Linked DNA regions of Homo sapiens: all the other regions are reported to be linked to region 1. The links are microRNA targets in miRTarBase. Many come from high-throughput screens and were not tested one by one. Region 1 holds a microRNA gene; each other region holds the end of a gene's coding sequence.

Region 1 (4,242 bases):
CAATACAGTTGAAAAATATTGTTGAAAAAGTTAAAGAAGACCTAGATAAATGGAAAGACATTTCATATTCATGGTCAGAAGCTTTGTTAAGCTGGAAATACTCCCCAGATTGATCCACAGATTAAATGCAATCCCTGTTAGAATACAAGCTGACTTCTTTGTAGAAATTCACAAGCTAATTCTAAAGTTCATATGAAATGTAAAGGGACCCAGAATGACCAAAATAATCTTGAAAGGCAATAACAAAGTATGAGTACTCTTACTGCTTGATATCAAAACTTACTACAAAAAAAAAAAAAAAAACCCGGTAATCAAGACAGTACAGGGCTGGCATAAGGATAGACATGTATATCAATAGAATGGAATTGAGTTGATAGATTAAACCCATACATCTATGGCCAACTGATTATTAACAAGGTTGCCAAGACAATTCAATGAAGGAAAGAATAGTCTTCAACAAATGATGCTGGACACTGTATAGCCACTTGCCAAAAAGAAAGAAGTAGAACCCTACCTCACATCATATACAAAAATCAGCTAAAAATGGATCAAAGATCTAAACATAGGAGCTAAAACTATAACACTTGTAGAAGAAAATGCAGGAGAAAATCTTTATAACCTTGGATTGGACAATGGATTCTTAGATTTGGCGCTAAAAGCACAAGTGACAAAACAAACAAAAAATAGACAAACTGGACTTCATCAAAATTAAAACTTTCATGCTTCAAACGACACCATCAAGAAAGTGAAAAGACAAATCCAAAAATGGGAGAAAATATATGCAAATTATATATCTGATAAGGGTATTGTTTTCAGGATATATAAAGAACTCTTACAACTCAATAATAAAAAGGAAAGTAACTCAGTTTTTAAAATGGGCAAATAATTTGAACAGAAATTTCTCCAAAGAAGATATACAATTGTCCAATAACCACATGAAAAGATGCTTAATATAATCAGTCATAAGGGAAATGCAAATTAAAACCACTACGAGATACCACTTTACATGCATTGGAATAGCTAAAATAAAAAAGACACATAATAACAAAGATTGACAAGTACATGCAGAAATTGTAACCCTGATACATTGCTAATCAAATTGTAAAATGGTACAGCCACTTTTGAACAATTTGGTAGTTCCTCAAAAAGTTAAACATAGAGTTAACTCTATAATATAATAGAACATTTCCACTCCTAGATATATATCCAAGAGAAATGAAGACATATCTTCACCCAAATGCTTGTACATAAGTGTTCATGGCAGCATTATTCATGACAGTCAAAAAGTGGAAACAACACAAATGACCATCAACTGATTAATGGATAAATAAAATGTGGTATATCAATACAATGGAATATTACACAACCATAAAAAGGAGTGAAGTACACACTACAACATGGATGAACCTTGAAAACATTATGCTAAGGGAAAGAAGCCAGTCACAAAAGATCACACATTGTATGACTGCATGTATATGAAATGTCATGCATAGGCAAATCCACTGAGAAAGAAAGTGGGTTAGTGGTTGCCAGGGACTGTCAAGCAAGGGGGAATGAGGAATGACTGCTAATTAGTATGGGATTTCTTTTGGAAGTGATGATGAAATGTTCTAAAATTAGATAGGTTACACAACTCTGTGGCATACTGAAGAATCACTGAATGTTACACTTTAAAAGGGTACATTTTATGGTGTGCAGACTACAGCTCAATAAAAATGTTATTTGAAAAGACTTCATGGCTTCCCCATTGCTATCAGGATGAATTTCCACCTCCTGCAGGATGAGACTCCTGCTGATCCCTCCAGGCTCATCTTTTGTTCTCCCAACACCCAAGCATTCAGTGCTCCAGCCTCATGACAGATCCCTCAACATGCTCCCAAGTCCTTATCTCTGCACCTTGAAGCTTGCTGTATATACAATGTAGAGGGTATGACCAAGGGCTTGGGAGTCACATCCTAGCATTGCAGACTACTGCTTCCAGCATGATGCTGCCTCTTTGCCCTAAAAATGGCCAGACCAATACTGACTCCATCTCTGAACACTGAAGGATGCTCTATAAAGTTCAATGACCTCTTACATTAGATGGCTCCATGGCCCACCTTTCCCACAGGCTTTCCTGGAGATTCCAGTTTTTCTAGTTACTGGGAACTTAATCTAGTAGACACAGAAACTGCTCTCCTAGTTGGTGGTAGGCTCTCAAGTTGAAAAGCCAGGTGAGATCAGGGGCAGGGGCACTAGACTAAACCAGATATTGGGTGAGCGTATGGAAGAAGCTGACCAGGAGAAAGGGAGAACATGCAAGAATGTCAGTGAGAGAGAGAGAAAAGAGTCTACACAGCCCTGGGGGATGAACAGAGAAAGTCCGGGTTCAGCTGCACTTCTGAGCTTTTGTTCTGTGAGATCTTTTTCATAATGTGCCCTCTTTATGTGAGCTAACTTGATTGGTTTTCTGTTTCTTGCAAATCAAGCATGTCACCCTCCTTTAATGCCGAAAATGTCCCTTTCTGCCCTTTAAGACCCCAATAGGTCTCTTCCATCCAGGTGTGTATTTAGCCTTTCCTGCCTGCACCAATGACAGGTTCTGTGGCTTGGTCCCAGCATGCAGCAATGCACATCCTGTTATTATTCATTACACTTTCTCTTTGAGCTTATAAGATCTGGGGTTGGACAGACAATTTTTAAGCTTCAGCTTTTCTGCTGGAGAGCTCTCCTAGATGACAGTCTGAACCTTTAAATCCTGTATGTCTTGCAATGAATGTCTCATCTTTCTCTTACAAATTTCTCTAAACTAGCCGCCTGCCATCATGCTGTACTTTGAGGTTGTCACCACTGGCCTGACAATACCCAGGCAAGAAGAGTTAGCCTGACTCTGTCCTCTCACTCAGTTCCTAGTAGCTCATCCACAGGTCTCTCCTGCCTGGCTGCCTCTTCACTGGCCTCCCTGCCTCCAGCCTCTCTCTTCTTCCTGTTGCTCTGCATACATTCGCTCTATGATGCTCCCCAAAATACTGCCATGACATCAGCTAAGACAACTAACACGTGTCACATATCTACTGTGGATTTGTATACTGTGCCAAGAGCTTTAAATTTTAATTTATTCTACAATTAATCTCAAGAGGGAGCTTTTAGTTTCTCCATTTTATAAATGATAAATTTGAAGCACAAAGAGGTTCAGCAACTTTCCACTCTATGCCTAACTCCACACAACGAATCGTGATTTAAACTCAGGTCTGTCTGACTCTTGCTCTTTCAAGTAAACTGGACTGGGTCAGGTTATTCCCCCATTCAGAGACCTTCCACATGACTATTTCCCAGAGACAAAGTCCAAAGTCTTTTTTTTTTTTTTTTGACATTCAAGGCCCTCCATGAGCTGGCCCCAACCTGGACCTCCAAGTGTATTAGTCTGTTCTCACACTGCTAATAAAGACATACACAAGACCGGGTAATTGACAAAGGAGAGAGGTTTAATTGACTCACAGTTCAGCATGGCTGGGGAGGCCTCAGGAAATTTACAATCAGGGCAGAAGGTGAAAGGGAAGCAAGGCACCTTCTTCACAAGATGGCAGGAAGGAGAAGTGCAAGCAGGGGAAATGCCATACACTTATAAAACCATCAGATCTCTTGAGACTCACTTATTATCAAAAGACTAGCATGGGGGAAATCACCCTCATGATTCAATTACCTCCACCTGGTCCCTCCCTTGATATGTGGGGATTATGGGGGTTGCAATTCAAGATGAGATTTGGGTGGGGACACAGAGCCAAGCCATATCACCAAGTAAACTGACCAACTGAAGGTTCTTATAGTCATCTTTTTATTTGTTCCCTGAATTTTCATTTGGATTGTTCACCTCACATGGAAAAGTCCTTCTTCTTCTAGGAGGAACATGTAATCCTCTGATGTATTGTCTGTTGTGGGCTTTCCCTGAAAACACAGAGAATATCCTCCCTTTTGCTCTGCAATAGAAGGGTTTTAGCAAATTCAGTATGTGCTGCTTGGGTAGGAGGAGCAGAAAATAAGAAAAGGAGAGAAAACAGGACATATGAGCCCCAAAATTATTATTGAGAATTATTAAGGTGTCTCTATAATTGATGATCTAAACCAAAACACGTTTGAGAATAAAAAGGGTGCTATTCATCATTATGTGGAACAACAGACAAAACCTGAGACTCTCCTAAGACACCAGGATGGATGGCTGCCCTGGTAATTACCCCATTATGAATCTCATCTCCCCAAGACAGG
Region 2 (4,242 bases), not on the chromosome of region 1:
GACCTCATGTGTTGTCTTTAACCTCCTGCCCACATGTCACCCCCTCCCACCGCTCCCAGTCTGGGTCTTGAGACATCCAAGTTGATAACCTCTTCCTTCTCCCTGCCTCTCAAAGGACTTTAAATTCATTGTGTTTTTGTTACTGGATTTCCCTAAACCAGTTCATTAAAGCATGCTCCTGTGTAGCCTTCCCACAAATAGTTAATGAATGGTCAGCTGGGAGCTGTACTGATAGAAGCAGCAGCTTGCGTTCAGGACTGTTCCACTCCTCAGCTTCCTCGCTAATCGAGACAGAACTTGGCTGCGCTCTTTTCATTGGGGGCAAAGTCGTCAGCCTGTGCCCCTCAAGCAGTGCTCAGCCTGTGTTCCCCAGGCACTGGTGGAGCTTCAGGGATTGACTAAGGGAAGGGGCTGACAGAGGCTGGGCGTCCGCGGCCCGCACCTGCTGGGGCCTTCAGTGGTCCACTCTGATTTCTTTCTCTAGTGCATTAAACATGGTCGAGTTGTGATCCAGGGAGCAGATGCCCTGGGTTAACGAGGCTGGAAAGGTTTCGCTCTTTCCTGCGACAGAAGGAGCAGATAAGAAGACCTTCCTCCCTGGGGCCTGCTCTCCTCATCCATCAGGAAAAGCCATCACTTTGTGTTTCACTGAGCGTTTTGAAGTTGGTAGTGAGCATTGGTGCACTTCTGGCTGGCAGTCCCAGCTGCCTTTTCTCTCTATAACTGGAATAGAATGAACCTTCCTCTATCCCTCTCTTTCTTCCCACGGCCTTCAGGTGTTCCCAGAACCTTGCTGTGTCTGTGCCGTGTGGCTGTGAGAAGAGCTCTTGGCAAACACCGGCTTCATCTGATTCCTTCGCTGCCTCTGCCAGACCCCATAAAGAAGTTTCTACTCCATGAGTAGACTCCAAGTGCTGCGGTTGATTCCAGTGAGGGAGAAAGTGATCTGCAGGGAGGTGGACACCGAGCCCTGAGTGCTGTGCTGCTGCTGGTCTCCTGATGGCTGTTGCTGCAGAAGATGTCCTCGTAGACTGTCATTGCTCCTCAGGTGCCTGGGCCGCTGAACAGTCCTTGGGTCATTGTCAGCTGAGAGGCTTATACTAAAGTTATTATTGTTTTTCCCAAGTTCTCTGTTCTGGATTTTCAGTTGCATATTAATGTAACGGGCCATGGGGTATGTACATGTAGGGGCTGAGGTTGGAGGCCTACTAATTTCCCTGTAGGGAAGACTCCCAGCACTTCTGGAACTGTGCTTCTCTTTATTTTTCTACTTCTCAATTTGATGGTTCGATTAAAGCCTTCTAGTATCTCAATGAAAAGGGAGTTTCGTAAGCAAAATAGAGGACAGAAATGCAGTTCATGAACTTGCTGGTTGGTTTTTCCTGCTCCTGGGGTAACACATGCGCTTGTCATACACGCCCCTTCCTTGCCCCTTCAGTATTCTCTCTTTGCGATGGAGGTCTCATAGTGAGTGTCTTCACTCAAGGGTGGTTTCCTGGCTGCACGGCACCTGTTCCAACACCTACTGTGCCTCTCATCAGGTGTCACGATTTTTCTGCCACTTCACCTTAGGGAGCTTCCAGTGATTGATTTTAGGAGGCCCACACCAAACTCCCCAGGAAATGACTGCCTTCCTTGGGACCAAGGACCGTTCCAACAGCATTCACTGCCAGTTCTAATAGGCGAGGAAAATGCCCGAGGCGCTGTCTTCTGTCCCCCACACGTACCAGAAAGTGAAAAATGCAGCGAGTCCTCTGGGTGGTTATGAGCCTCCAGGCGCATGCTGTCCAGTGGACAGAACATCTGGCGGTTGGTTGATTGCTCTCTTTTGTCTTGGTCGCTGCTTCTAGAATCTATGCAGGGGATAGCAGTGAGGTCAGAAGTCTTTCCCGGGAGAGAGATGGCCTGGGTTATCATTGCTGATAGCTTTGGCTGCATGAGTTGGGCTTCCCCTTACCCAGGGCTGCACAGCCAGGTGTGAGGGTCACCGGCAGGTGGGCTGGTGGCTGCAGCCTCAGAGCCCTCCCAGGTTGCTGCTGTTTCCAGTGAATCACATTTCGTCATTTGAAGCCCATGAGGACCATTGTGTGGATCCATGGTGATTCTAGACTTCAGATATATTTAGGAAGGCGCAGATTTCAAATCTGTGTTTGATTTTCTGTAATAAGAGAAATCCAATTTGTAAAACTTGAACAATGATACCGTTTTATTTACTTAGTAGCATCACTGTGTGTCTTAGCAGGCAGGCAGTGTCTGGCCATTATTGCGTTCTACAGCCAGAGGATAGAATTCTATACCCCCAACCCCTTGTGTCACAAATGGGCTCTGTGTGGGTCACCCCAGCTGACCCGTGTATGTGCAGATGCAGTTCCGAAGGGAAGAACAGTCCTCGGGTGATTCAGAGGGGAAAATGCAATCCGGGAGGTGTTTCCTCAGCTGAGGTGACACTGTTAGAAGCTGTGATGGTTGTGTAAATGTGGGCTGTGTGCTGTTCCCGAGGGGAGCTTGGGATTGGGTCCTGCTGAAGCCAGGAGGGTCTTCCCAAGATAGGAGAGGAACCGCAGGTGGTGAGCGGCTGGGGAGGGCCAGGACAGCCGGGGCTGGGTGCTGCAGGGGCTTCAGCCCGGGAGAGGGGGTGGGCGTGTTCTTTGTGGTACCAAAGTGGGACTAGGACAAAAATTGGGCTGTGGCTGGGGCAGGAGCTATAGGGAGTTAAGGAATGATGATACGGAAGTTGGAGCCACCACCGTGGACTGGGCCTTGTCACTGGAGGTCGTAGGCAGTGGCTCATCACCCTGGTAGGGCTGATAGGGGCTTTCAGGGAGGCTGGTTAGCTCCCTGCACTCTGGCTCTTTACTGGCTTACTGTTTAGCTCCTCCCACCTCGAGGCTCTTCTTCCTGCCACCCTTTGGGCTCAGAGGAGGGTGGCTTTTTTCGAGGTGAGCCATGTTGTAGACACATGATACGCTCTGCGTCTGCTCTACTGAGTACTTTCTGCAGGGGCCTGTTAAGGACGAGGCCTCCCCAGCCCTGCCCGGTGCAGGAGGTGGCTCAGTTATTGAACCTTTTGGGAAGCAGCACCTGGGAATGCTGCCTCGTGGGAGTCCCATGCGTGAGTGTGGTGGTGTGACCTTCAGGCTGCACAGAGGCAAGGACCCAGATGTGGCAGCATGGGCGTCATGCTCCTTTGCACAGCCCAGGGCCTGTTTTGGAGGGACCAGGTCACTGCCCCTGGTCTCTCTAGGAGGAGTGGACTGAATGGATCGTTGCAGAGAAGACTCACCCAGACCTGGCCAGGGAATGATGTATCTGGGGAGAGAATGAGCTGGAGGAGGGGGCCTCTCATGGCCCTTCCCTGGCCTGTGGCCCAGCCTGGCTGGCCTGCAGGTGTCTAGGGTCTCAGCTTTTCATTTGCAGAGGACATGTTCAACTTCCTCTCTGTTCAAGCCAGCCTTTGCCAATTTTTTCAGAATCCAAACAATTTGGAGGTTTGGTATCTTGTTTCATAGCTGCCAAATATGAATCTGAAAACAGGGTGGGTAGCTAAGGTCATTCCTCCTGGGTTTTAGTGGCATTGCCTTCCTTCACTAAAGCTCCCTTTTTTTTCTGTTGGCAAGGACAGGTTACAGAATAGGAAGAGTAGCACTTTCCGCCTAAGCACTTTAGGAAATCACCTTTCTAAGCCCTGGGGCGCCCAAGTCCCATGGGACAGGGAAACGTGGTCCTCAGTGAGGCTGCTGCCTGGCTGGCCCGGAGTCCTCCCTAGGAGAGGGGCTCGATGGGCTGGGGGAAGGAGCCTGAAGGTTGCCCCTGGTTGCATCCCAGAAGCATCTGACTGTCACCACTGCCAGTGGCTGTGGAACAGTCCTGGGCCCTGGGCCTTGGCTGCTGTCAACAGATGGGCTGGGCTGGGCTGTGGTGGGGTGGGGGACAACGTTGGTAACTCTGAGAATTCAGCTTTGGAGTCCCGGGTGAGGGGTTTTAGATAAACCCATCAATATCACCCACATTCTGTGACTCTTTGCATCACTCGTGTTATTTATTTATTTATTTATATTCTGCCTTGTTCCAGAAAAGTGTTTAAGGCAACAATGCTTGTTTTTTGGTGTTTTCTTTTGACATTTGAAAATTTAGTACATTGTTAAAATGTACTTGTTAAACAGGTAATTTTAAAGAGAAGGAACAATTGTTTTTAGTAAGTTTTCTTTTTCCTTTTTCAATGAATTGATTCTTCAAATTAAA
Region 3 (4,242 bases), not on the chromosome of region 1:
CTGCTCCCAGCGCTTTTTTCTTTTTTTTTAAGATGGTGTCTCACTTTATTGCCCAGGCTGGAGTGTAGTGGCTCGATCTCTGCTCACTGCAGCCTCTGCCTCCCAGGTTCAAGTGATTCTCCTGCCTCAGCCTCCCCAGTAGCTAGGATTACAGGCGCCCACTACCAAGCCTGGCTAATTTTTGTATTTTTAGTAGAGATAAGGTTTCGCCATGTTGGCCAGGTTGGTCTCGAACTCCTGACCTCAAGTGATCCGCCTGCCTCAGCCTCCCAACATGCGTGAGCCACCGTGCCCGGCCAGCATTACATAAGCTTTCAAAACATGATTTTTACTATCCTATCCTAAAAGTTTTTTTTTTTTTTTTTTTTTTTTGAGACTGAGTCTCACTCTGTTGACCAGGCTGGAGTGCAGTGGTGCGATCTTGGCTCACTACAAGCTCCGCCTCATGAGTTCACACCATTCTACTGCCTTGGCCTCCCGAGTAGCTGGGACTACAGGCATCCGCCACCACGCCCAGCTGATTTTTTGTGTTTTTGGTAGAGACGGGGTTTCACCATGTTAGCCAGGATGGTCTCCATCTCCTGACCTCATGATCTGCCTGCCTCGGCCTCCCAAAGTGCCGGGATTACAGGCGTGAGCCACCACACCCGGTCAAAAGATTATTTTTTAATCTGAAATTATTTCCAAGGTAAATATTTTTCTTCCAGGTATTTTCCTAAGGACCCAAGTTCAAAACCTTGCATTACTCTGGTCTCCCTTTCTTTTTTTTTTTTTTTTGTCTTATGAGAAATCAAGTCTGAATTGATTTGGTTCAGAATCAAACCTGAATCTGATCACTAAATTCTACTAATTCTTTTCTTTCTATGTCTATCCACATAGTTCTGGCCCGGCCAGGCCCCTGTTTCCTCAGCCCAGATTATTGAAGTACTTTTCTGACTTTTTTATTTCTTTGTAGCCTCTTTTCTCTATGGTAATCTATTTTACATATCTCTTTGCATCATTACCTTGACAAAAATATTGACTGCCTCTACCTTATATGGCAGAGGTCCCAAACTTGAGCTCCAAGGCTGAACATAGTCTGCAAATTTGTTTTTCTACAACTCCACAGTGCTCTGACCATTATTTTTAAATTTGCTGGAATCCTTTCAAAGGGCCCCAGGTTTCACTGATTTGTGTTACCTGCCTGGCGTCTAGGCTTCCAGGTATGGCTGAGTAGACTTTGCTTTTTTTTTTTTTTTTTTTTCTGAGACAGAGTCTTGCTCTGTCTCCCAGGCTGGAGTGCAATGGCACGATCTCGGCTCACTGCAACCTCCACCTCCTGGGTTCAAACGATTCTCCTGCCTCAGCCTCCTGAGTAGCTGGGATGACAGGCGCATGCCACCACGCCCAGCTAATTTTTGTATTTTAGTAGAGATGGGGTTTCACCATGTTGGCCAGGCTGGTCTCGAACTCCTGACCTTGTGATCTGCCTGCCTCGGCCTCCCAAAGTGCTGGGATTGCAGGCGAGAGCCACCACGTCCAGCCGACTTTGCATTTTATAACTCCAGAGGGCACTGTGCACATAACATAAAAAGTTGTGCAGTGCACAGCCTATACAATCTGCACAACTCTACCTGGTGGCCCTATGGGAGCCTATGGCCATTTAGTGTGAACTCTAGTCTGTAAAACGAATATCATGCCCACTATATCGACTAATCAAGCCCATCCTGTACCATAGTCTGGAAAAGGCTGACATTCCTAAAAGCTTTGCACTCTAAGATAAGCCACGAAAACCAGAAATATTTCAAAAGCTTTGAATTCCAAGATAAGCCGTGAAGTTATTTTTTATGCAAAAGACAGAAACATACTGTTTTTCTTTTTATCAAGACTGACCCCAAAGTTATCCAATCAGAATTGTTGACTAATATATAACAATCTGAGCTATCTCCTGACTTTGTGATTTTTTTTTTTTTTAGACAGTCTTGCTCTTGACACCCAGGCTGGAGTGCAATGGTGCGATTTCGGCTCACTGCAACCTCCACTTCCTGGGTTCAGGCAATTCTCCTGCCTCAGCCTTGACAGTAGCTGGGATTACAGGCGCCCACCACCACATCCAGCTAATTTTTGTATTTTTAATAGAGACGGGATTTCACCATGTTATAGTTCAAATACTTTTTTAAAAATTAGATGTGCTAGTTCTGTACTAACTTGTCTTTTTTTGCAAGTTAAAATGCTAGTCAGTTCTCAAATTTGTCTGTGAATTTTGCAGGATAGAGTATAAAATTCCTTAAATCCTAATTCCAAGCTCTTTACAATGTGGGCCCTACATCCCTAAAGTTTTCTCCTTTGCGTAAATACTACACTTGAGACAAACTAATTGTTTTCCCCCAACATAAACTTTATAGTTCTCTTCTGTTGCATTTCTACTCTCCAATATTTCTGATTCTTTTCCTCTCTTTTTTTTTTTTTGGATAAACAAGTTTATTTGTAAATTTAGTCAACATACATAATTGACCTAAAAACTTCAATAAGATAAATTTTAAAACCACTTGGAAGGCCATCTCTATAAAAATGATTTTCCCAGGACAGTAACCAGATGTAACCTAACCTAACACCATCTTAACCGGCAGAGGTTCAGTGGGCTAGAGCTTTGTGCTCCTCCCCTACACCAAGTTTTTATAATACAAATGCCACAAGAAAAAGAACTTCAGTACTGTTTCCTCTTAGCAGAGGAGAAAACTCAACCTAGTTATGAGACCAACCACACAACACAATGAAAAGCTGCACTAGTTCAGAATATTAGTTAACAGATGATGCTGGTGTGAATAACTCATATTTTTTTCTAGAGCCCTTATAAATAAAATCCCCCAGTTAGTGTTTCCATTATCAGCTAGAGGGTTAGTTAACATGTGGTAGAATGAGGATTTATGCAAGGTATAAATGCACATAGCATTTTACTACTATGAGAACAAGTGCAGTCAGAAGAAAACCAACTGGACTCTAAATTACACACACCTTAATGACAAGACTCCCCACCACTTGTGAATGTAAAACATTTAATTTGAAAATGTTGACACTACAATATATAAAATAGCTATTATAAATGCACATATTGTATTCTATAGCTGCCAGGTTTAATTTTTTTTTTTTAAAGGAAACTATAAGTTACACTGTGGTTAAGGTTTGTATCTTCACCCTTGAAAAAGCCTACATTCTATCACAGTGATGTATGGTCAGACTTAACAGCCCCAATTGTTAAACACTTGGATCAAGTCATAACCAGTTTTATTGCAAAAGGACCCTGTTGTACACATTTATCAATTCTAGTACCTTAATAGCTACCCAACAAGTCATTAACATACAGAAACATGCATCATGAGAAGCAAGAAATATCACGCATCCGTTTTGCATATTAACAACTTGTCACTCCTGAGCAACAGTGCTGACATCACTGAGGTCTGTAAACAGTCACTTTTCGCATTCATCCTGAGTGAAAGATGGAATGACTTAAGTACAAATGCAACATATAAACAATTTCTTACAAAAAAAGTCACCAATTAAACCAAAGTATTTTACAGAATTTACTACAAAATGCCATAAAAACTGCCTTCACTTAAGCTCTCTCTCCCCGTATCCGGCGAGCCAACTGGATGTCTTTGGGCATGATGGTGACTCTCTTAGCGTGGATGGCACACAGGTTAGTATCTTCCAACAGACCCACCAGGTACGCTTCGCTAGCCTCCTGCAGCGCACCGACGGCTGCGCTCTGAAACCTCAGGTCAGTGTTGAAATCCTGCGCGATCTCCCTCACCAACCTCTGGAAGGGCAGCTTCCGGATGAGCAGCTCGGTCGACTTCTGATAACGACGAATCTCTCGAAGCGCCACGGTCCCAGGCCTGTAGCGATGAGGCTTCACCCCGCAGGTAGAGGGGGTGCTTTTCCTGGCAGCTTTCGTGGCCAGCTGTTTGCGGGGGGCTTTCCCACCGGTGGATTTACGAGCAGTCTGCTTGGTTCGGGCCATTTTCTTTCACCCAACGCCGAAGTTTTAGGCCACTTCTCCGACCTCCGCGCTGCTTCCGCTGCCCGAGGAAGAGCCGCAGTCGCGAGCGAAGAACCGACACTGGTCCAACGAACGACCAAACCGCTCTGCGCCCTCCTCTCTTTTATCTGCATCCCTTCCATTCTTCAAAGCCCATTTCGGTGTTTCGTTTTTTGTTGTTGTTTTGTTTTTTGAGACGGAGTCTCGCTTTGTTGCCCAGGCTG

The links. The annotated mature microRNA hsa-miR-4255 reads CAGUGUUCAGAGAUGGA and lies in region 1 at 2,028-2,044, opposite strand. An mRNA with a match to its seed (bases 2 to 7 or 8) in the 3' UTR can be bound and repressed. Matches are read on the target gene's strand: a 7mer-m8 pairs with bases 2 to 8, a 7mer-A1 pairs with bases 2 to 7 and ends in A, and an 8mer does both.
Region 2: miRTarBase lists ASB1 as a target of hsa-miR-4255. The part of its 3' UTR that is shown has no 7-base or 8-base seed match.
Region 3: miRTarBase lists H3-5 as a target of hsa-miR-4255. The part of its 3' UTR that is shown has no 7-base or 8-base seed match.

Annotation. Positions count from the first base shown.
Region 1 is chr1:37,159,375-37,163,616 of GRCh38, reverse strand. MIR4255 (microRNA 4255) reads right to left here and starts at 2,054; the gene lies at 1,983-2,054.
Region 2 is chr2:238,445,608-238,449,849 of GRCh38, forward strand. It overlaps ASB1 (ankyrin repeat and SOCS box containing 1), which reads left to right. Exons shown (of 5, transcript NM_001040445.3): 5 at 777-4,242. The coding sequence ends at 904. Among named protein-coding and RNA genes, the nearest start is that of ASB1, 21 kb to the left of the region's middle.
Region 3 is chr12:31,788,167-31,792,408 of GRCh38, forward strand. It overlaps H3-5 (H3.5 histone), which reads right to left and starts at 4,132. Exons shown (of 1, transcript NM_001013699.3): 1 at 3,019-4,132. The coding sequence starts at 4,000. The coding sequence ends at 3,593.